Regions from separate parts of the Homo sapiens genome. Here all the other regions are linked to region 3. Evidence: fine-mapped expression QTL. A gene starts in region 3. Each other region holds a variant in brackets. All regions are shown on one strand. Distances are between the middles of the regions.

Region 1 (8,000 bases), 47 kb before region 3:
CCTGCCTCAGCCTGAGAAAGTGCTAGGATTACAGGCATGAGCCACCACACCCAGCCCCTCACTGTCTTCTAAACCAAAAATGATTTTCTAACTTGGTTGAAACCTTCCTGGTCTCCCAGCCTCCAGTTCTGCCACACTGTAATCCAGTTACCAAGCTGCAATCAAAATGGAAATCTGATCATCTCTCCCCTTCTTCCCTGGCTCCCCAAAATCTTCATCAAAGCCTTCCATATCTTAGCCCTTCCTGCATCATCTCTGTTCCTTAAATTGAACTTCACACTTTAAATCCCTCTCCCTCTTGTCATCACTACCTGGCCAGCTCATCCGGGCCTTAAGGCTCAACTCAGTCATCACCATGGAGCATCCCTCTAGCCCTGCACTGGGCCAACGCCAGTCTATAATCGCACAGTACCATGGGCACACCTCTTACCACACCGTACTGTTCAAGTCTGCATGTTCTGTCTTATTTATCTTCCTGCCTCTGGTAGCAGCATAAAGCCTGACACATCATGAGCATTCAATGTTTACTGAACTAACTCCAGAATGAAACTCTCTTCTACTTGCCCTCAACTCCCTACCTTCAATTTCCTGACCTACAACAGTGTCCTCAATGTGTTCTTTTAACAATGAATGTCTGACGCTGAATAGGATCAAGTGCTTTGCACAAGTTCATCATTAAACAACTCATATCAGAGACTAATGATAATGAGCTGATGCCCAGACTGGGAACTAAAACTTCGCAAATAACTTCTCATATGCTGAATCCCCTGAACAACTCTGGAGGACAGATATCCCTGTTATCTTTTCATTGTTTTCTTCAACCCTATCTTTCAAAACACACATACAACAAGAGCTGAGATACTTTGAGTATCTTTGAAAAATTTTGTCTGAAGCAAGAAGAAATCTGCATTTAGGTATCACTGATGAGGTAATCAGAATTCTTGTTTGACTTCTCCAAAAGATCCCTGATGCATTCAATTTACATATGTGCTTCCTCTCAGCCATATCCTGGTCTGAATACCAGCAATGTCACTTACTAGACAGACTTTGCTCATGTGCTTTTACAAGATAATACAAACTTCTGAATGTGTCATGTCCTGATCATTTAGGCTAAGGATCAATGAACTCAAATGTATAAGGAGGCCAAAGTAGCTTTGTCAAAGAGCAAAGCCGGCTCTGTGGAAAAAACGACAGCCTTGAGGACAATGACAAATTGCAGTCAACATGGGCATCACGGCCAATGAGAAACACTAGGGTGCTTTCGGGATGGCAGAAAGCTGAAAAGAGCTTGCCACTGCTAAAAGAAAGAGCCTGGTCACAACCCAGCTCTTCCGATTCCTGCTAAGCACAAACATAGACCTAGTGTTCCCAGATCCAACTTTCTTTTTTTTAAAGGTGGGGGAGGATGGAATCTAGATTTATGGCTGATATCTCCCAATTTATAAATATTGGGAACCAACATCAATTTTTTAAATACTGCGTATTTAAAGCACAGTAGAGCAGGCTGCAAGCCACCAGCCTGTGACATCTGGCTTTACGCCTAAGTTGCTCATTATCATTTTAAATGGCCCACTGATTCTTATAAACTTTTGTCTTCTCCAACATGACAGAAAGATCTTTTGTGACTGGAAATACATATGACCCTCCTAAGACTGGCACCCATTGTAGAACCCAAGATTTGATGTCCTGGACTCAGGAATAGATGGATTAAAGCATCCATGTTAATTAACATGAAGTTTTGTCTAGCTCACCAATCCAGGAGATTTTTTTCCCCTCTCATTGCATTTTTTTTAAATTTTTAATTATTATGACTACATAATAGTTATATATATTCCTCATATCTCAATTTAATTACCACAATCACTGTTTTTACAAGGTCCCAGGCAAGAAGAGGTGAGGCAAATGGAGGCTCTGAGGAAAGTGGCTCCAAAGCCTACATGATGGAAGATAACTCTGGAAGAGAAAGAGATGACGTTCCTAAGCTTGTATAGCAAAACTTGAGAGAAGGTAACGAAGATGTGACATCTGAACTCAGAGAAATATAACTTCTATAGAAAAGAAACAAGGCCTTGCAGCTCTATAAGGAACAGTAAATAAATCAAGTATGCACACAAGAAGTAAAAAAATATATCCAAGTAGAAAGGAAGCTTTTCATGAAATGTCCACAGAGCTCATGCTCTGTAGTGACTGTAATGCAAGATTCAAGGCTCTATCTAGAAAACTCCTAGCCAGTCTTGACGGACCAAGCCCTACACTGAGCATGTACAGAGTCTTCCTGTTCCATGCAGTACTTGCTAACAAAACTAATTTAAATGCCTTACCATGACTCGATCTCCTTTAAAGTACCTCATTAGTCCTTGATATCCCTTTGCTGTATCTCTGGCTTGCCTTGCCACTGCTCTGTGAGTCCCCACAACTCCTCCTCCACACATACTCTTCCCCCAAGAGCTTGGCACAGAATAAAGATCCATTTTAGATCTGGATTTAAATAGTTTTCTTTACTAGCTCATTTCCTTATCTACTAATGAGGGAAATACCACCTACGTCAGAGTGGGAATTAAATGAAATAATAAACCTAAAGACCCCAGCTCAATGGTTCAAACATAAATAATGCCAAATATTCATTCCTCTCCCCATGCCCATATCCTCTCACCAAGCCCCAATGTTCTATAGCTTATGACCCAAAACGCTAAAAGTAGAACATTCTAATATTGAGCATATTAACAGAAGCTTGAAGAGATATGCAAGTTATAAATCTGTTTTTGTTCTTCCTCACCAATATAAATTTGCTAAGTGACAGATTAAGACAGTCAATTCCAAGAAGTTGGATTCAATAACATGACATGAGGCACAAAGTAGCCCATATCAATAGCCAGGAATGATTTTATTGCAGCTTGTTATGCTAGTTGCCAGGAATTTTTTTTTAATCTTGAATGTTGCTTTAAATATAGTAATAAAAGAAAATATGACCGGCTGTTGAAGCCCATATGCTACTCCTTTTCAGGACTACAAAATGCTCATTCAGACTTTGTTTGTGCACAGCAAATAGTAGCCGGAGGGGAGCCAGTGAAATCAATGAAAACTTACTGTTTGGAAAACTAGCAAATAGAAAATTGGGGCTGTGTTTCTCTGGTTTCTTCTAATCTAAAACCTGTGATGGAAATCAAGTTGATTCTTGACTTTTTATTTCAATTTCACTGACAGTCCAAATAGAATGCCTAGTGATCTCTATGCTACAAATCTCCGCTTCATCATACAAATTAAGCACAGTTGATCACTCTGTTCCTGAAATATTTCCCCATGAAACCAGTTTCCTGGTTTTCTTCTCTTCTCTCCCTGGCCGTTCTTTCTGTTCTTTTGCTGGCTCTTGCTCCTGTGAATGTCAAGAGTTCCTTCCAGCTTGGTCCTTTGCCC[G/A]CTCTTGCACCCTCTCTCCTTGCTATCTCTCTCCTTGGTGATATCACACCTATTTCAATTGCTTTAAATACTCCCTGTACACTGGCAAGTCCCAAATTCCTTTCTGGAAACTGTATCTTTCTGCTGAGCTGTATTTGAAACTACATCTTCCCTCTGGACTGTACGCTCATTTTGCCATCAACAGCCAACATCTTCACTTGGACATTTCATGAACACTCCAAACGCAATGTGTTCAAAAGTTATGTCCTTTTGCTACCCCCACCAGTCTCCCTCATCACAATAAACAAGGTCCTTATCAGGTTGCAGTGAGCCAAGATCATGCCACTGCACTCCAGCCTGGGTGACAGTGGGATTCCGTCTTGAAACATTAATAATAATAATAATATTTCTGATTTCTCCTTTTTCCTCAGCTCCCATATACAAAAGTCCTATCATCCCTACCTTCAAAACATACACCAGAATCCATCTACTGCTTACCATCTCCTCCAGCAATCCCTAGACCAGTGGTTCTCAAACTTTTCTGTATATCAGATCATCCAAAGGACTTGTTAAAGCAGATTGCTGAGTCCCACCTCCAGGTTCTGAATCAGCAAGTCCATAATAAGACTTGAAGTATGCATTTCTTACAGGTTTCCAGGTCATTCTGATAGGGCTGATCCTGAGACCACACATTGAGAAGCACTGCCCTAGACCAAGCCTGACCTCTCACTCCCACTACTGTTAACAGTGTAATGCTCTACTTAGAAGCCTCAGTAATCATTTTAAACATATCAGATTATGTTATTTCCCCAGTAAAATCAAATCCAAGCTCCTTACTGACCAGTATATGTAATCCAGCATGACTTCTTGGATATCCCGATGCTCTTGCCTCATGGTTCTTTAGCTCTCCACTAAAACCACACACTTCCTCAGGGCCTTTGCACAATATATTGAATCTGCCTGGAAACCCCTTTCCCTCACTCTTCAAATGGCTGGCACTATTTTCCTTCAGGCCTCATCTTAAATGTTATTTTCTCAAAAATGTCTCATCTAGGCCGAGCGCAGTGGCTCACGCCTGTAATCCCAGCATTTTGGGAGGCTGAGGTGGGCGGATCACGAGGTCAGGAAATCGACACCATCCTGGCCAACACGGTGAAACTCCGTCTCTACTAAAATACAAAAAATTAGCCGGGCGAGCTGGTGCGCGCCTGTAGTCCCAACTGCTAGGGAGGCTGAGGCAGGGGAATTGCTTGAACCCAGGAGGTGGGGATTGCAGTGAGCTGAGATTGCGCCACTGCACTAAAGCCTGGCGACAGAGCAAGACTCTGTCTCAAAAAAAAAAGTCTCATCTGACTATCCTACACAGCTCCCCACCCCACTCCAAATTCCCTATCACTATACTGTTTTCAATAAGTTTTAGCCCTTACCATAATTAGTGTGGAAGTGTATGCATATGTTTGTCTCTTGCTGCCTAGCAAGACTAATCAAGCCATATCTGTTACATCTGCTGTATCTTCAGCACACTGTCTGCTACACGCTACATGCTGAATCACTTTTTGTTGTATAAATGGATGGATAAATTAATGAATAAATAATGAACTTTTCAGTAAAGGCAAAAACTTCTGATTTCTAGCTAACATAATTTTTTAAACTTCTAAGATTGTTCGAATAATTCCCTTTAAGCCAAGCAAATTATCTTCCAAACAAGTCAAAACAGTACCATATGAAAACTGTAGGGGAAAAAATGCTACTGAACACAAATCATTTCCACAAAAACAGACCCACAGCAAAACCCTAAAATCTGCAAGCAAATTGTCTTTTCCAGTATTTTTTAAAGATAGTTAAATATCAGCCTTCACACCAGATGACACTTTTACAAATATTCCCAGATTAAGCAGCTCATGGTATGTGACAATATGTCAACACCCTTTCATAGAATATACACTTCTGCCTCACATAATGGCACGTATTCAAGTTTCAATGAATTCTCTACCACACGAATATAGAAAACTCATCTCAGGGCACAGCTCAACAAATGAGAAAACGGCCTTTAATCTACCACCCATCAACATCTGAGGTCTAAGCAAGAATCCTTTAGTTTCCAGAAGTAAGTTTTATATAGAACTTTCTATTTTCCCACTAATATTCATCACACTAGAACTAATGTTGCCACATAGGAAAGCAAGCTCCAAAGCAGATGAAGGGGAGACCACTGAGAAAGCTCAGGACCTAAGAGGCTCTGCATGGCTTGGCCCCTGGTCACCCTCAGCCCCACCTCCCTATCCTAGCTCTTCCACTTCTGCCCAGTGGTCCTCTTAGGGTTCACTTCCTTGACCCACCCAAGCACACTTCCACATTAGGGTCTACATTCACACCTGTGCCCTCACCTGGAACACCTTCTCCCTCACTTCAGCCCTCTACTAAACACCCCCCCTTCCCTGACATATTATCTCCAACAGCACCCATCACCCTACTCCATCTCCTATCCTCCCAGCTCTTATGACTACCATATACTTTATCAGATATTTATTTTCCATCTCCCCAAAGCTTAGGGATTTGCTTTGCTTGTTGCTTTACTCCCAACACTGAGAAAGTGCTTAGCTCACAGTAAGCACTCAAATATTTTGTTACATAAATGAAGGACAAGTTACATTCAGCCCAATATGAGAGGAAAAGCCATGAAACTGAACAACATTCTTAGGATTGCTGTGCCAGGCTTAAGCATTCTGTAAAAATTTGCTGCTATTTCCTGACATCAGGAATTTGCTTCTCTTTTTCTTCTGATCAGGGTGTTTAATATCTAAGAGAGCTTTGCTCCTATAATCCCTCTATGAATAGGCATTCATGTTTAAGGCAAAAAAAAAAAAAAAACTTGTTGAATCTTGAGATGTCACATTCTTCAACATAATTACTGCTTTGCACTGTGAACTCTGACACCATTCAGGGCCTCCCCAGCTCTGTAAGTGAAGTGACTGCAGCAGTGTCCCTCCAGGGACATGCCCAAGTCTCCTCTCCACGCCTAGCATGGGATTTGCTACCCTCTGTGGCAGCAGCAGACAGGAGAAGGTGTTCCTACAGGTCTGTTCCTTTGTGGGGCATTAAACAGGGTTAACTCCCACAATTCATGATTACCTGGAGTATTATCTGAGCCATGGGCTCCCAGATGGAGGATCTAGACTTGGGATGCCAACCAGAACAGGCTTGTCCTCTATCTCTTTTCTCTGTGCCTTTTTGCCTTCTGCCATAACAGTCAATTACCACAACTGATCACTGCTCTTCCATCCTTATTTTATGAGCTAGAAAATCAAAACACCCTAAATCCTAAATTATCTTTAATCTCTTATAATTTGATGGTTTACATGTGAAAACTATAGTTGAAAGGGAAAAAAATGAAACAAAACAAATGAGCAAACTGTGCTTTGCACAGTGGGGAATGTGAAGATGATGAATGGAACAGTCCCAACTTCCAAAGGTTTACAATCTAGTGACTATCCATAAAATAAGCTGTCATGTTACTTTACTGGATAAAGTAACCAGGAACCATAGAAACCATACATCTATGATTTTCAGAAATATTTGCAACCATTTATAAATTCTTTAAGGACAGCTTTAACTAAGATAAATAACCAAGCTTTTTATGCTGGAGTGCAGTGGTGTGATCATAGCTCATGGCAGCCTCAAACTCCTGGGCTCAAGCAATCCTCCCGCCTCAGCCTCCCGAGTAGCTGGGACTATAGGCATGTGCCACCACACCTGGCTAATTCTGGGGGGTTTTTTGCCTTTTTTTTTTTTTTTTTTTTGTAGAGACAGGGTCTCGCTCTGTTGCCTAGGCTGGTCTCGAATTCCTGGTTTCAAGCCACCCTCCTACCTTGGCCTCCCAAAGTGCTGGGATTACAGGCGTGAGCCACTGTGCCAGGCCTTTAGTTCACATTGTTTTACTTGTTCCTTCTCCTTCTCACTGAGAATATTCTTTTCTACCAATACTTTTCCAGATGCTGCACCAGGTCAGGCACACAAGATAAAAGTCACTAAAAAGTAAAAACCCCACCTACCAAGCAGATTTTTGTGTCTGTGCGTCTATTAGAATTTGAGAACTACCTAGAGAGCAGGCTACTGAGAGAGAAACCTTCCAAATGAATCTGGAATTACTTGGGATATCTGCAAAACAACCAAGAATAGGGAGGAAAGGGTGCGCCTGGAAAAAATGAATTAATCCAACCATCACAATTCTAGCCCTCCTCTGAGTCTTCCCTAATACAAATGGACCATAAATCATCATGCTGCCTTTGAAGCTAAATGGAGCAACCTAGACACAAAGAGATCATGCCTCAGACTGTGCGGAATGCCACTCTGTTAAAAGATGAGATCCTGGCTTCACACTTGAATCAGTCCTGTGAAAACTGTGTGAATATTGAGAAGGAGGGGCAAAGAAATATAAAAAATGGAGCTTACAGGGTAACAGTAAGCTACCTGCACATCACAGAAATTCTGCTCTTTAGAGAGCTTCAGTCCAAGACTATCAACCCAGTAACTCCTCTGATCCAATCCTAGTTGGGCTGAAGAATGTACCACTGCAGTGTAGCATTTTTCAGGTGGTCATAATGTGG
Region 2 (8,000 bases), 27 kb before region 3:
GGCTTTCATATTTTTCTGATTGCAACCCGGAATATAGAATACTTCTTACGTCACAATTTGCTAGATGCGCTCATATAGCTACTGAAAATAAATTTCATGCAACAATACTTACCCTTACCACATGGAATGTCCTCTAACATCTACTATTCTATTTTAGTTCACCTCCTAAAAAATGCTGGCCATGATTCACTAAACTGAATTCACAACCTACTAATGGGTGATCAGCTGCAGTTTGAAAAACTTTTCTATTCAACCTATCTCTCAAGCCGCAGCTTGGATATGGTGGCCTCAGGGGCAGCCTTCCCTGACTCCCTAATTAAGTCTACATGTCCCTCCTTTATGTTCTCATGGTATATGATCCTTCTACACTTTTTTGTGGTAGGCCTGGATCTGTAGGATAGGCAAGACATCTAGGGGATCAGAGACTTGAGCACATATGCCCACACAAAAACTTGTATGCACGCTCATAAGAGCATTACTCACATAGTGAGAAGGTGGAAACAACCCACAATCTATTAGTGAAGGAATAGATTAAAAAAAGATGTGGCCCGGCGGGGTGGCTCACTCCTGTAATCCCAGCACTTTGGGAGGCAGAGGCGGGTGGATCATGAGGTCAGGAGTTTAAGACCAGCCTGGCCAAGGAGGTGAAGCCCCACCTCTACTAAAAATACAAAAATTAGCCGGGTGCGGTGGCGTGCACCTGTAATCCCAACTACTCGAGAAGCTGAGACAGGAGAATCCCTTGAACCCAGGAGACGGAGCTTGCAGTGAGCCGAGATCGTGCCATTGCATTCTAGCCTGGGCAACAGAGCAAGATTCTGTCTCCAAAAAAAAAAAAAAAAAAAAGATGTGGTATATTCATACAGTGGAATATCATTCAACCATAATAAAAGAAGAATGAAGTTCTAACCCATGCTACAACATGGAAGAACTTTGAAAATATTATGCTAAATGACATAAGCCAGACATGAAGGCCACATATTATATAATTCCATTTATATAAAATATCTAGACTAGGCCGGTCCATAGAGACAGAAAGTAGACTAGCTGTTGCCAAGGGCTGAGAAGGATAGGTGGACTGGGGATAAGTGTTAAAGGGAAGAGGTTTCTTTTTGGGGTTAAAAAAAAAAAAAGGCTCAAAATTGATTCTGGTAATAGATGCACAACTCTGTGAATATACTAATAGCCACTGAATTGTACACTTTAAACAGGTGAAATGTATGGTATGTGAATTACTTTTTTTTTTTTTTTTTTTTTTGAGAGGGACTCTTGCTCTGTTACCCAAGCTGGAGTGCAGTGGCATGATCTGAGCTCATTGCAACCTCCACCTCCCAACTTCAAGTAATTTTCAAGTGCTGGGATTACAGATGTGAGCCACCACACCCAGCCTGAATTACATCTTTAATAAAGTTGTTTTAAGAGAGAGGCTAGGTGTGATGGCTCATGCCTGTAATCTCAGCACTTTAAGAGGCCTAGGCGGGAGGATCACTTGAGCCCAGGAGTTCATGACCAGCCTGGGCAACATAGTGAGACCCTGTCTCCATTTTCAAAATAAAAATTAAAACAGAGAAAAATCTAAGGGAGACCTGGAAATTGGACTAAGTTGCAGGAGGCAGGTGCAGAATTTATTTTACTTATCCCTGGCTTCTAGCACAAGGCTCATAGGCATGGCAAAGGCTCCATAAGTATTTGTTGAATTAATAGTTGATTCTATGACAATGAGTGGATGGGCTTTCTCAGTCATGTAAAGCTTCCACCTTGGGGTACTCCCATGTTAACCATTCAAAGAAGGAAAAATGAGCTTCCTTTTTTATTAAGTGAACTTCCACCTTCACTTAAAAGATATCCAATACTCCTGATGATTATAAACTGAAGGATTTTTTAAAGTAAGAAAAATATTATGTTTCCCTGTTTCACTGTTAAAAAAAAAAATGGCCGGAACAGTGGCTCACGCCTGTAATCCCAGCACTTTGGGAGGCCAAGGCAGGTGGATCACAAGGTCAGGAGTTCGAGACCAGCCTGGCCAACAAGGTGAAACCCCATCTCTATGAAAAATACAAAAAATTAACCAGGTGTGGTGGCACGCGCCTGTAGTCCCTGCTACTCGGGAGGCTGAGGCAGGAGAATCACTTGAATCTGGGAGTCAGAGGTTGCAGTAAGCCGAGATCGTGCCACTGCACTCCAGTCTGGGTGACAAAGGGAGACTCCATCTCAAAAAAAAAAAAAAAAAAAAAATGGTTGTACAATAGTCCTTCTCACGGAACCTCACATGAAATTCTATTAATAAGAGCTTTCTCAGGCACAGTGACAAAGGGGTGTTGTTGGAAACTGTGTTGCTCAAAGTTTTATCATACTCCACAGCTGACTACAAACTGATATTTTAAGCTTAATTCCTGCACAGAAAGTTTCAGCTCAGCTATAGACAACAGCAAGCCACCAAAAGAGACAAGAAATAAGGGCTAAGAGAAACTAAAAACACAAAAGCAATGCACTGTTATGTTTGTTAATAAAAGTAGAACTTTATATCCATGTGAAATATGTAGCCTAATCTGCACACAGCCATTTTTTAGCCTAAGCATAACTGGATGGCTACCTTGTTTAAAGTCTTATCAGTGCCATTTGAATGCCAACATCCACAGCCACCTGCCGTAACAACACTTGCTTGCTATAAATAAGTAGATAACATTCTCTCCCAAGAGGTAAAAATTCTGGTTATCTATTAAAAGCAAAACCAATAACCAAAATAACCCATCTTTTAGCTATCCCTCATTTATCAAAAAAGAGGCTTACACTTCAGATTTAGATGCCTGCAGAGTGGTCCCCCAAAAAAGCAGTATCTAAACAAAATAAAGACTAACACGGCACAGAACTACTCTAACAATAGCGATTCTCTTCCCACAATATTTCAGATCCCAGTGGAAGCCTTTCCCCAATGTCTAAATACATCTCTGTTTACTTCCTACATCTAACATTTATTTTTAACAGTGGGAATACTTTTCATTCCATAACCAAGAGAAATTAACAAATAATGTCAGATCTTAACTTTAGCAAAACAAAACCTGGAAATAATTCCAATGTGCTTCTTGTAAATGGATCTCTTTTTTAAAAATAATACTTTAGAATATGTTGCACATCTAATCAATTTATCAACAAACATTTATTGAGTACAAGGTACAAAAAAGGTGGACAAAGATGGAGAACTGCAGATCAGGTCAAGGAATTTCTAATAGAGTAGGAAACACACACAGGTATCCAAACAACAGACATTCAGGAAACACGAATAATAAGTTCCATGACATAATGTAAGTATATAAAGTGCTAACAAATACAGTCTGTTCACTTTTCTAATTTAAAGTTCCAAAAGGCTGATAAATATTTGTAAACACTCTTACAAGCACAGGTATTACTGCCCAGTTTCAAAAGGACCAGGGCGACCGGGCGCGGTGGCTCACAGCTGTAATCCCAGCACTTTGGGAGACCAAGGCAGGCGGATCACCTGAGGTCAGGAGTTCGAGACCAGCCTGGCCAACATGGTGAAAACCTGTCTCTACTAAAAATACAAAAAAATTAGCCAGGCGTGGTGGCAGGCGCCTGTAAGCCAAGCTACTCCAGAGGCTGAGGCAGGAGAATCACTTGAACTGGGGAGGCAGAGGTTGCAGTGAGCCGAGATCGTGCCAGTGCATTCCAGCCCAGGCGACAAGAATGAGACTCGTCAAAAAAAAAAAAAAAAAAAGCCAAGGCACTGCAGGAAACAGGTGGTTAAACACAGAACTGCCATATGATCCAGTAATTCCACTCCTAGGTATATACTCAAAAGAACTGAAAGAAGGAACTCAGATACAGCAATGTTCAGCCATACAGTAATGTTCACAATAGTATTCACAGTAGCCAAAAAATAAAAACAATTCAAAGGTCCATTGAAGTATGAATGACTTTTTTAAAAATTGGTATATGCATACAACAGAATATTATTCAGCATTAAAAAGGAATGAACTTCTAGCACATGCTACAACATAGAGGAAACTTGAAAACATATGCTAAGTCAGCAGTCCCCAACCTTGTTGGCACCAAGGACTGGTTTCCTGGAAGACAACTTTTCAATAAAAGTGGGGGGGAGGAGAGATGGTTTCAGGATGAAAAAGTTCCACCTCAGATCATCGAGCATCAACTAGATTCTCATATGGAGCACACAGCCTACATCTCTTGAATGCACAGTTCACAACAGGGTTCTCGTAACTATGAGAATCTAATGCCACCGCTGATCTGACAGGAGGTAGAACTCAGGCGGTAATGCTCACTTACCTGCCGCTCACCTCCTGCTGTGTGACCCAGGTTCCTAAAAGGTCATGGAACAGTACCTATCCGCAGCCCTGGGGTTGGGGACCCTTCTGCTAAATGACACAAGCCAGACACAAAAGGCCACGTATTATATAATTGATTTATATAAAACATGCCAAATAGGGATATTTTCTGTTTC[T/C]ATGGAAACAGAAAGTAGATTAGTGATTGTCAGGGGCGATGGGGAGGTGGAATGAGGACTCAGTGTTTGATACAGTTTCTGTTTGGGATGAAAAAGTTCTGGAAATGGATACGTTGCATAACATTGAGAATATACTTCATGCCGCTGAACATATATTTATTAATAGTGGTTAAAATGGTAAATTTTATGTTATGTATACTTAATGGCAATTATTTTAAAATGAAAAAAAGGATATTTTTAATGTCTGAGGCATATATTGGCTTGATGAACATGTCTTCAGTGGTAGAGACAGGCACAGGCCTCACTTTCCCCACCAGGCAGCCCTTAGGCTGGTAACCTATATATCAGCTACATATTTATAAAGGATGTCAGTTCTCTCCCAGTCCCCATAAGAGAAATGTTGTATTGCTTCATTTTGTGCACCATTAGCTAGCAGGGACCACTTACAAAAAACTTCAGAAGAAGAAATTATCAATAGTTTCCGTGTGATGAAACTCACTAAAATTTAAGGGTCTAAAAGCCATGGATGAGACAACAATTCTTAGAGCCGCAGACCATATTAGAGAAGGAAGAGTGTGAATTAACTGCCTCCTCAACTTGCTATTTGTTTTATCTGCTCAGCAATATCCATGTCAGTGCAATGACAGTATTTACAGGAAAACTTTACAATTCACCTGAAAGACAAACTAAAAAACCCGTGGATTGTCTTACCTTTTGAAACCCAAAGAAAGGAGGACTCTGAAAGGAGAAAACTCTTCATGTATTATTAACTGAAATAGCCATGCCCTTTTCTCCTAAAATTCTAAAAGCTCTACTTCCCACTTACTCTCACAATATTCCTGGAAAAAGGCTTTTTCAGCCCCACACTATTAACTAAAATTGCAGACCTAAGAACCTTTTAAAGTATTAGCACTAACCCTCAGGACTCCTGATTCTCAAGTTCCTAAAATTAGAATGGCTCTTTAAATGCCCGTGTATCTGCCCCCAAAGAGACAAGCAAACAAAGTCCAATGTCTTCTGCCACCAGGACAGCAGGAAGATAATTCTTCTCACAGTTATATTCAGAAATGCCAAAATCAAACCTTGCTAAACATGTTCAGAAAAGCTTCACATATCTCTACTGGAACTAAAAAGTAACAAACCCAGCCAGCAGCCAAAGGGACAGACCTCCTAATTGGATTTTAACCTCATCAAAATGATATCATGTACTCAATCCTAGGACATAGAACCAATCCAAACAGTCACTGAGGGACTCAACTATCCTTACCAAATGCTCTGCCTCATAATAGAAGTTTTAAGTTCTTGACAGTAAAACTGTGACATTCAATAAGCTCTAGCTAATACATCATTTGATATATGAGCAGGGAACATTGTAAATTTCAGAATCTTAGACCAAAGGAAGTATTTTCCTACTTGAATGTTCTATAGCAGGTGTCCCCAACCCCTGGGCTGTGGACCAGTACCAGTCTGTGGCCTGTTAGGAACCAGACCGCACAGCAGGAGGTGAGCGGCAGGTGACCAAACATTACCACCTGAGTTCTGCCTCCTGTCAGATCAGCCAAGGCATTTGATTCTCATAGGAGCGTGAACCCTACTGTGAACTGCACATGCGAGGGAAGCAGGCTGCACACTCCTTATGAGAATCTAATGCCTGATGATCTGAGGTGGAACAGTTTATCCCAAAACCATCCCCCTACCCACTCGGTCTGTGGAAAAATTGTCTTCCACAAAACTACTCCCTGGTACCAAAAAGGTTGGGGACGGCTGTTCTATAGGACATCCTAGTTAAGAGGGCAAGCAATCTATACTTGAACTTACCCAGCTGCAAGGAATTCAATTCCCCATCCTCTATCCCCACCCTCACAATAAGCACATTCTATGAGTGGACAGCTCTGTTAGGAAGATTATTCTGCGTTTCAAGCCAATCCTCAGCACCTGTAATTTTTATCAATTGTCCCAGTTCAGAACCATAGGTAATAAATCTACGTCTTCTTTTCTGTGATGTCCCCTCCCATGTGTGAGCACAGCTCAGCACCTGTGGGGGCAGCAGGCTCATAATATAAACTGCACACAATCAACAAGTGTAAATGATTTAAGGAAACTTTCCCAACCCCATTTCACAAGACTTTTAAAGCAGAGTGATCTGAAATTACCTTAAACATTTATAATGAGGAGACTAATCTTATCTGATTTGTTCTTCTCAAGTCAAACCCAATGATGAAGTTCCCTGGACAAAGGACTTCTCTGACTTTATTCCAGTCCATTCCCAAGTCACCAGCTTCTTCCTTTAAAACTTACGTGTCCTTTACAAACAGATAGTGCTGAATGATTGTTAAATGGAATGTTTTAGTAATCTTCCTAAAAGTAGGTTGGGTGATTATGTGTTGTTCACCCGTTATTTAACATATATTTCTCCAGTTGGCTAATTTGTACAGCGTTAAAGCAGATATGGCAAATTCTAAAACAGAGTCCCTTTGTGTAAAAGATAACACACTAAAATAACTTGTCAGCTTTTCTCCAAGTTCCCTGGAACACCAGTGTCCTGTGAGATGATAATTGGCGCTTCAAGAAATGTACATGTTAAGTATATGAATACCAAAGGTTCTAAGAACAGAGAAATGGAGAAACTTGTTTAAGTTTGGAAAATGAAGGGTCAAAGTCCTTGAGCACAGAGCACTTCTCACCCAGCACACCTATTCATATCTTGGGAACAGAGTCTGTTACTTCCCCAATTGAGGAAATAGGCTTAGAGCCACACAAGGCTTCTGATCTGTATGCTAAAAAGGGTTGCTCATGGAACCAATAGGAAATGAGATGCTTTTCTTAGTTTTTTACCCAACTGTAGAGGAAATGTTAGGTGACAGTTTTACTTTTAAAAAATAATAAAATAAAATCACGCATTATAATTTTATCACATGGAAGAAATGGAGTGTCATCACTGAAAGCCTAAGAAAACGAATCTTTTCATTCAATCAGCATAAACAACTCTCACAATGGAAAAAAAAAAAAAGGAGATGCCTATAACCAGCCAAAAGTTGAAAGTACATGCAATTTCTCTCTCATCTAAATGATGAGACCAAGCCTTCGCAAACAGAAAATAAATCACTCTCTCTAAAATGACGTGCAGAAAAGGAAACAAGAGAGGCAGCTCATTTGCACTGTAATTCACATTCCTGAGACAGTGGTACAAACACTACTCAGTACCACACAGGGAGACACGACACTCTTTCTCCTCAAGCATCTGTAATCTCCTGGGTTAGTCATTGAGTGTAGTGGGAAGCAGAACTCAGATGAACTAGTCAGAGAGCACTTAATGGCTCTCCAGACTGCACTAATCATCCTGACCAAAGTAGAGTTCAGTTCAAGTGCTGAGATGGGCGGCTGTTTGCAGTTGGCCATTCTCCCTCCCTCCCAGCATCGCTGTTATTGATCCCTGCATCGTGAACAAAGCTAAATTAAAGATGGGCTATGTCAGATAAGGCTGCTGAGTAAAGAGACTGGCTGGGCCCCTGAGGAAAGCAGC
Region 3 (8,337 bases):
ATCTTGTTTGGAAAATAAGATACATATAAAAGAAAAAACAAAGAACAGCAAACAGTGAAGTTGGGCAGTATGATGAAACACTACGTTGCATGCAGAACACAACAGGAATTCATAAATTCCCTCTGCCCCTGGCTGGTTACCTCTGGTGCCCAGCAGCCTCTGGGTTCACCATAGTGTCATACAAATATTAGCATTCTCTATGAGTAAGTCTTGACATGATGTTTGGGGAATACGGCAAAACAAAACAGAACAGAACCGGGCTGGGCACGTTGGCTCACGTCTGTAATCCCAGCACTTTGGGAGGCTGAGGAAGGTGGATCGCTTGAGGCCAGGAGTTCAAGACCAGCCTGGCCAACATGGATAAACCCTGCCTCTACTAAAAATACAAAAAAAAATTAGCCAGGTGTGGTGGTGCGTGCCTGTAATCTCAGTTAGTCCAGGGGCTGAAGCACGAGAATTGCTTGAAACCGAGAGGTGGAGGTTGCAGTGGAGCTGAGATCGTGCCACTGCATTCCAGCCTGAGTGACACAGTGAGACTCTGTCTCAAAAAAATAAAAATAAGCCAGAACTATACCAGATGATTTACTCAAACAAAGGCACTCCCAGCCATCTGTCCTTCCAAAATCATGACAGCACAATACCCCCAAGAAGTGGTCAAAGGCAATAGAAGGAGAAATCTGGAGACTTCACATTTCAGATGGTGGTGGAAAAGTCTTCCTAGGGCTCCCATGAGTACCTCAAAATGAATACGTCTGAAATCAAACTCATTATCTCCTACTCTGGACACTAATGTTGCTGGAAAATGCTTATGTCCAACTCCTTTCTCTCAGACAGAAAGTCAGTCTCCTAAAATCTACCTCCTCCACGGCTCCTGACTACCTAGGCATGACTGCAGTAAGGGCCTCAGAATCTCTCACCAAGACTAAGTCCATGGCCTCTAACCCATCAGCCCACTGTCACCTCCATAACCACAGTGACTCTTCCAAAACTGTGAGATTCATCACGTCCCTCCCAGTCTACGAGTTGCAGTCATTTTTGAATAAACCCAAAACTCATGGCATGCCATTCAAGGTCTTTCACATTTATTTTCAGTGTGACTTCTCAGCACATACCTAAACATCCAATTATTCCTAATATCTTCATCTTTTACACCCCTAGGATTGTGTATCTATTATTCTCTTTCCTGGGATGCCCTTTCCCTATTGTCCTCCTGGTTATATTCTACTTATCCTCCAAAATACAGTCCCCTCCTCTATGCTCCCATACCTCTGTATTCTGTATTATAATCATTTTGGTCTATTCACATGTTCAACAAATAAATGTACATAGGAGTACCTCTTGTATGTCAGGTACTCTACTAGGTGCTAGATAGAGATGGTCTTTGCATTTCACAGGAGTTTGCAATCTAGTGGAGGTCACTGAGAGATGTCATAAAAGAAATTCACACACAATGCATAAGATCATGGATTCGGAAGCACGCAAAGGTTTCAGGGAGGAGAGGATCCCTGAGCTGAATCTTGAAGGCATAGGAAATAAGATCACTGGTTTCCAAAGTAGAGTGTACAATATAATCCATTGAGATGAAAGAAGAAAATAGAATTTTCATTTCTACTTACAATGTGTGTTTCAGTTTGTGTTTTAGATTATACACACTAAATGGAGCATGTAGTTTAACAAATATATGTTTAATAAGGGGTAATCAAAATTTTCTTCTTGGAAATACCGCCATGAAAGTTTAGAGCTGCTGAGATAAAGAGTGAAAACGGGGAGAAAAAGACAGTGTACGCATAAAGAACAGCATGGAAATCTGAGAAAGCACAGCCTGTTCAAGGAACAGCAAGGAGGTGGAATGTTTGGGGCAAGGGAACATGTAGAAGAGCTCACTGCACTATGAGTTCTTCACAAAGCTCCTATCTTATCAGAACTCGAGAAACAAGCACAGGCCACTCCTCCCTCCCCTAAAAAAGAATTGCGGGAAATGGGCATCTGAAATTGACTTAAGAACATATACACATGGAAACAGACTGGAAAATCATATACCCTTTAAAATAACTACCTCTAAGTGGTAACAGGAGTGACATATAGTCTTCTTATTCTTCTCTACATTTAAATTGTTTCTACATAAAGTCTATAACACTTTTTTTTTTTTTTTTTTTTTTTGAGATGGAGTTTCACTCTTATTGCCCAGGCTGGAATGAAATGGCTTGATCTCGGCTTACGGCAACCTCCGCCTCCCGGGTTCAAGTGATTCTCCTGCCTCAGCCTCCCGAGTAGCTGGGATTACAGCCACGTGCCCCCACGCCCAGCTAATTTTTGTATTTTTAGTAGAGACCGGGTTTCTTCATGTTGGTCAGGCTGGTCTCCAACTCCCGACCTCAGGTGATCCACCTGCCTCGGCCTCCCAAAGTGCTAGGATTACAGGGGTGAGCCACCACGCTCAGCCAAGTCTGTAACACTTTTTAAATATCTTGAGGGAATCTTAAGGGAATATATAGAGGTTTTCATGTGGTCGGTCGCCATTTTGAATTGATCAGAGCAGAACTCTTGTGAGCACTTGAATTTAGAGGAAAGCAGGTGCAGGTATTTATTCTATCCCAGCCTAACTTGACCACTGAAAGGCCCAGAAAAATCATATCGGGCATAATATGTCACTCTCTTGAAAGAGATAGGCAATACTTAATAAAAACAAAAATTCCATTTCAAGATAAAGGTCAAACTCAACTTTTAAAATATACAAACTATTCCTTTTGAGAACCATGAATAGAAACCCAGACACCTTATTTCCACTCTACCCTTCACTCTTTCTCTTGGGCCTAAGTAATTACCTACACTTTCCATTTCCAGACTTAAGGACAACTCCTTATATAAAGTAAAAATCTGCCACCCACTTTAGCCATCCTTATCCCCTGACCAGCCAGGCAAGCCCTGCCCTACACTCATTCTCAGGACCTCTGGAGGCGTCTTCAGAGCCTCTGGCGTTTGCTTGGGGTGTTGGAAAGGTCGCAGCCTCCCAGAACCGGATGTGTCACTCACTCCAGCAAAAGATGCAGACTCCACAGGGTTGGGGAGAGAGAAGAGGATCTGCTGGGATCATGATGAGAGGTGCGTGTGTGTGTGTGTGTGTGTGTGTGTGTGTGTGCGCGCGCGCACACGCGCGTGCGTCTGTGAATAATTTCATACTGTAAATTCTGGTAAAAGATCAGGTTTGTCTGTAATTCAGCAGAAGTAGGGGCTTCCATACAAACCTAGCAACAGCCTCTCTACATCAAGTTTTACCTGCTGAGTTAACAGTCACCAACGGAAGGGCATACACAAATTCCTCCAAAGTATTATTAGCTAAAAGAAACAACAGAGGGGCAAATTCCACACATGGAGATCAACGGGTGCTCAGAACTTCCTCTTGTTGTCAGCGCCGATTAAACATCATCTTTGTGAGCTGTAGGCTGTGTAGTGTGCCAAGAATGGTACAGGAGGGAATATAGGTCACTAGGGCTCAAAACACATCTGTACACAGACGCACATACCTTGTTACAGTATAACATGCTACACACATATACATGCTTAAACGCTAGGTTTTCAGAACACTCTCCCATCCTATTTCAGCTCTGCCATTTTAACCCTCCAGATAATTAAGTTAAACCCCAAGACTTAACCAGCCCCGCCCCCACCACCACCAAAAAAAAAAAAACCTCAAGGTACTCAAACAATGGGTCACCTTGCACAGCGTAACACACACGGGTTCCCTAAGAGATCCCCTATAGGGAGAATCGGTAGGTTAATCATTATTAAAATAAGGCTTTTATCATTAACCCTCTATTTCCTGGCCTGAGTCTGCGTCAGCCCTGTAACCCTTTCGCTCCCAGCTGGCTACACCAAGCCACACCTTGCCAAGCCCAGTCATTTTACCAGACTAGCGCCCACTCCCCCAAGTCTGCGTGTCAGAAGATCACCTCCCGCGGGGCATTTTCAGGAAAGCGCCTGACACGTGCCGGAGACGACCTACTGTGCGCTCGCCACCTGTCCTTCCAATAGGCTTTCCCGGACTTTCCCGAGTTTGGGGCAGTGGGCTGGGAGCTGTAAAGGGCTCCCCTCGCTTGCAGAACTCCCAAGTCTAAGATGGCCCGCCCCCTTCTTTCGCCAACCTGGATCCCCGCTTCCGGGCAAGAGGAGGTGCCCAGGGCTCACAGTCGAGACCCTCCTCCCACCCACCTCCCGAGGACTCCCGATTCCTCCCCGAAGCCTTCCCTCTCTGCACTTGGCTCTACAGGCGGTCGGATGGGAACAAACTTCCCGGCACCCCCAGTGACCCTGCCCAACACCACTCTGCCCTAAGGGGCGCCAAGACTTCTCGAGACCTGCGGGAAAGCAGAGGTGGGAAGGGAGAGAGAGGTGAGGAGTACGCAGAGGAAGGTGGAAAACCAACAACCGCGTGAATCTTACCTATCAACTCCCTGGGAACGTCAGAGCTCTCCTCGGTCATGGTTGCCCTGTAGGTGTGGGGGTTATTGCAGGTCCAACTCTGATTTATGGCCCCCTGCCCTTCCCCGAACTCCTCAATTTTTTTAGAGAGGCAGATGCAGCTTGCAAATGGAAGTGGGCAAGAAAAGGGGGGGCGGAGACAGAATTTTGCCGCGCGCCCCCCGCCCCACCAAAAAAAAAAAAAAGAGTTGCAAATGCGAGGCGGATTTGCTGCTGCTGCTACATGACGCCTCCTCGCAGTTCCCGGCGGCTGAATAAGGAGCGGACCGGATTACAAGCGGGCGCGGGGCGCGGGGCGGCTGTGGCGCCTGCTCCTCCTCCCGGCTCGCTGGTCCCCGGCGGGGCTTGGGCCGGCGTAGCTCCCGCCCAGCCTCCGCGCCGCACCTACAGCCCTAGGTGAAAGCGGAAGGCGTGGGAGAGGGCGGGGAGAGCGGCGCGGGGCGGGGGGAGTAGGTTTTCCTCGCGCTCCTGCCGGGCTCCGGCTGGGCGGGGGCAGCTCCGGCCCTCCTCCTTCTCCTCCTTCTCCTTCTCCTCTTCCTCCTGCGTTTCCTCCTCACCTCGCGAGAGCCGGCCTCCGCACCGGTGCGAGGCCGGCCTCCGGTGCCCGAGCGCTGGGTCCCCGGCGTAGGTCGCACCCCCAGGAGAGACGCTGTGCGGTGCTGCGGTGGCGGCGGCGGGCACCGCGCCCCTCCTCGCAGCCTCCCTCCCAAACCGCAAAAGCCCTGCGTCTGGAGAGGGGGCGAGCGGGCTCGCGAGAGAGCCCGGGAGCCATCTGCTGGCTGCGAGGGAGGAGAGCCGGGTGAGCCGGGCTTTCCATTTCCTTGTCCCCACTCCGGGCGGGCCAGGGGACCCAGAAGACGGGAGACGGCAGATTCTGCAGACCCGTCTACACGGAAGCTGGTTCTTTTTGGGACCCTCTTACGCACTTTTTCTTTTTCAACCCTCCCGGTGACATGTCACTTCATCATCGCTATTCTTCATTTCTGATGAGCTAGACGAAACCTGTGAACACTAATCATACCGTGAGAAGACACTTGTGTGTGTGCGTTCAGCTGGTGCTCTGCAGCCGCAGTTCGCTATCTCAGACATTCCCGTTGAGAGCGCCTTGGAAAATGCCTTTCACTCGGAAAAGTCTCTTTTATCCTCGGGGCATATTCAGGAAGCTGAGCTTTAATCACTGGAGCCTATGTAAGCCTGCGGATAGGTCTGATCCTACCTGGGCCCAAACTCCCTATGACTTCCCTGAGCTCCATCCCCAGAGGTTCAACTTCAGGGCCAAGAATACTTTGTGCCTCAATCGCTGCTTTTTAGCCTAGGGCTGGGAATGTCCCAGACTGTCTAATCAGGTTCTGCTTTTAAAGGACAGAAAAGGAGGAAAGGAAAGGGAATCCATGCACTTGGCAATCTAATTTTAAACACTGCTGTTGACCTTGGACCCCTTAGAATCATCTTCAGCCCCACAGCCAGGCCTTACCACTAAGGATTTGCCAACCTGGCCCCTTCCCACCCTCCTTAACCTCTCCCACTCCCTTCTCTATTACAACCAGACTCACTGTTTGCTTCCTCCTTCCTCTTAAGGTTATCTGATTCTTATCTATGTTTTCAAACCCATCCCAATGGTCTACCTTCTTTGTGAATATTTTCCAGGGATTTTCAGATTACTGTGATCCCTAAGCCTCTACAATATGTATTGCCTGAAACACTTTTCTAAACCCAACCATATGGTGTCGTGTTTCATTGCTTGTGTATTTGTCTGGTTTTACTATCTAACTCTTGCATTGTCCCCTGAGTTTGGATTTTTTCTGCCCAACTAGACTGTAGGTGAGTTGAAAGTGGGAATTTATCTTAGACTTTTGAACTTCTTCAACAGCCTAGTTCAAAATAGGTGTTCAATAAACATTTGTTAACTGATTTTAGAGCTTTGGACCTCAGGCCTCCAACCATTTGTTTCAAAAGTGGGCAATTTCTTTAAGCTAGACATTTCCTTAATGCATTAAATATATTTTTTCTGCAGTAAATGGAAATTAACATCTCAAACTGTCTTTCATTCAACCTGGTGTGTTAAAGAGGACTTTTCTGGCACATACCAATGAAGTTTCAGAAATGCCCTGAAGTTTCCAAACCATGTGATAACTTGTGAAAATAAGAACAAAAGTTTGTCTTTTTTTTTTTTTTCCTGTGGCCTGGGTGATGGAAAGAATAAAGGGAAGGCTGTATGGCAGTTCTGTAATTCAGTACTCTTTGGCTTCTTTTAAAGGAAGCTGGGGTTTCAATAAAAGAATCATTTTCACTGCAACAGGATCCTGATTGGCTCCTGCATCTCTGAAGAAGTGAATTCAAATGAATCTCCTATCACAACACTGAAAAATGACTGACTGATTTTGGAAATCAAAGTCATTTACTTCTCGGTTGCAAAACTCAAATATGTTTCAGAATAGCAAGCAGAGAACTCCAAGGAGCACTGTTTATAAAGCTGCAAACCCAACAAGCAGTAAACATCCCTAGCACCGTAAAACCATGGTGCCAGCTTGGAGAATGCAGTTTGCATTCTGAAATGTGTGCTTGTTTACTGAATCGGCCTGCCCCTTCTACTGCTACTGCTGCAAAAACAAACTTTTCTCACTCCATCACTCCAACTTCCTCAAATTCATCCCTGTTTATATAGTCTTGAATACACGAGTGATCAAACCACTACATGAAACTGATTGTGTTACATATGTGATTAGCCATAGCTTCATCTAAGTAAGTATTTACATGTGGCTGTGTTTAAGCCATACAACTAGTACTGATAATCTGAAAGCTGTTAGTAAGATAAAACTTTTTCAGAGAATCCCTACTGCATTTGAATCTGTAAAATGTTTAACATTTAACATATAGTGAGTGGCAACATTATTTTGAAAAGGAAGATGGAGAAGAGTGTAATTTGAAAAGCATGGCAAGGCCAGGTGCAGTGGCTCACATTTGTAATTCCAAATGCTTTGGGATGCCGAAGTGGGTGGATTGCTTGAGCCCAGGAGTTTGGGACAGACCAGACTGAGCAACATAGTGAAACCCCATCTCTTTTGAAACATACAGTGAGTGGCAACATTATTTTGAAAACTTATCCATGGATTTTTATTTTTAATTCTAAGCATATATTCACATCTATATAGTACATTTTGTAATGCATTATGGTCAGAAAACACTCTGAGTAAAAAAGTTTGCAGAAAATAGTGTCCCTAAAATGACACAACATGCTATCATTAGAACCATATCATGTAATGATTAAACCCATGGAGATAAAGCAAACAAAAAAGTTAAGAAGAAATCAGCACTCTAACAAAAAAAAAAATCACAAACTTACGTAGGTCAGTTTCTGATCTCGTCTACTGCATTAAGAACTGGTTTTAAAATGGAAAGGTATTCAGAAATGTGGGAACCACCAGCATTTTACTCCCCAAGTAATGATTTTAAGATTACCTTCCACCCCCAGTAACCATTGGGGAAGGGGCCTTCTTAAGAAGGTGTATTTTTCAACTTGGTTAATAAAGATCTTTCAGGAGGGTAGGCAATGTGAACTAAGCTTGCAAACACCTCTAAGAAAACTTAGTTTATCTCTGACTAGAAGACGGTGGAAGGTAAATGGCTATTAAACAATACTCCTTTAAAGTATTTACAAATGAAATTATATGAGACCTGAGATTTGCTTGAAAATAGCCCATAGGGATGGTGGGGGGTGGAGAGTATTGAGTAGAGATATAGATGAAATCAGAGTGACCTTGTGTTGATTTTTGTTGCAGCTGGATATCAGATCCATGGGAAGGCATTGCTTTCACTTTTGTATGTGTTTGCAATGTTTCATAACAATAATAAAACAGA

Evidence for each region.
Region 1: its variant is fine-mapped to the expression of CARMIL1 in tibial nerve (GTEx, PIP 0.99).
Region 2: its variant is fine-mapped to the expression of CARMIL1 in tibial nerve (GTEx, PIP above 0.99).

Annotation. Positions count from the first base shown.
Region 1 is chr6:25,322,614-25,330,613 of GRCh38, reverse strand. The region is part of intron 2 of CARMIL1 (capping protein regulator and myosin 1 linker 1); the gene reads right to left. LOC124901281 (a long non-coding RNA gene) reads left to right here. Exons shown (of 3, transcript XR_007059512.1): 3 at 1,877-2,908. Among named protein-coding and RNA genes, the nearest start is that of CARMIL1, 47 kb to the right of the region's middle. The variant G/A (reference allele first, on the strand shown) is at 3,415.
Region 2 is chr6:25,302,613-25,310,612 of GRCh38, reverse strand. The region is part of intron 2 of CARMIL1 (capping protein regulator and myosin 1 linker 1); the gene reads right to left. Among named protein-coding and RNA genes, the nearest start is that of CARMIL1, 27 kb to the right of the region's middle. The variant T/C (reference allele first, on the strand shown) is at 4,478.
Region 3 is chr6:25,275,939-25,284,275 of GRCh38, reverse strand. It overlaps CARMIL1 (capping protein regulator and myosin 1 linker 1), which reads right to left and starts at 4,902. Exons shown (of 37, transcript NM_017640.6): 1 at 4,441-4,902. The coding sequence starts at 4,480. RefSeq lists a silencer at 4,705-5,174.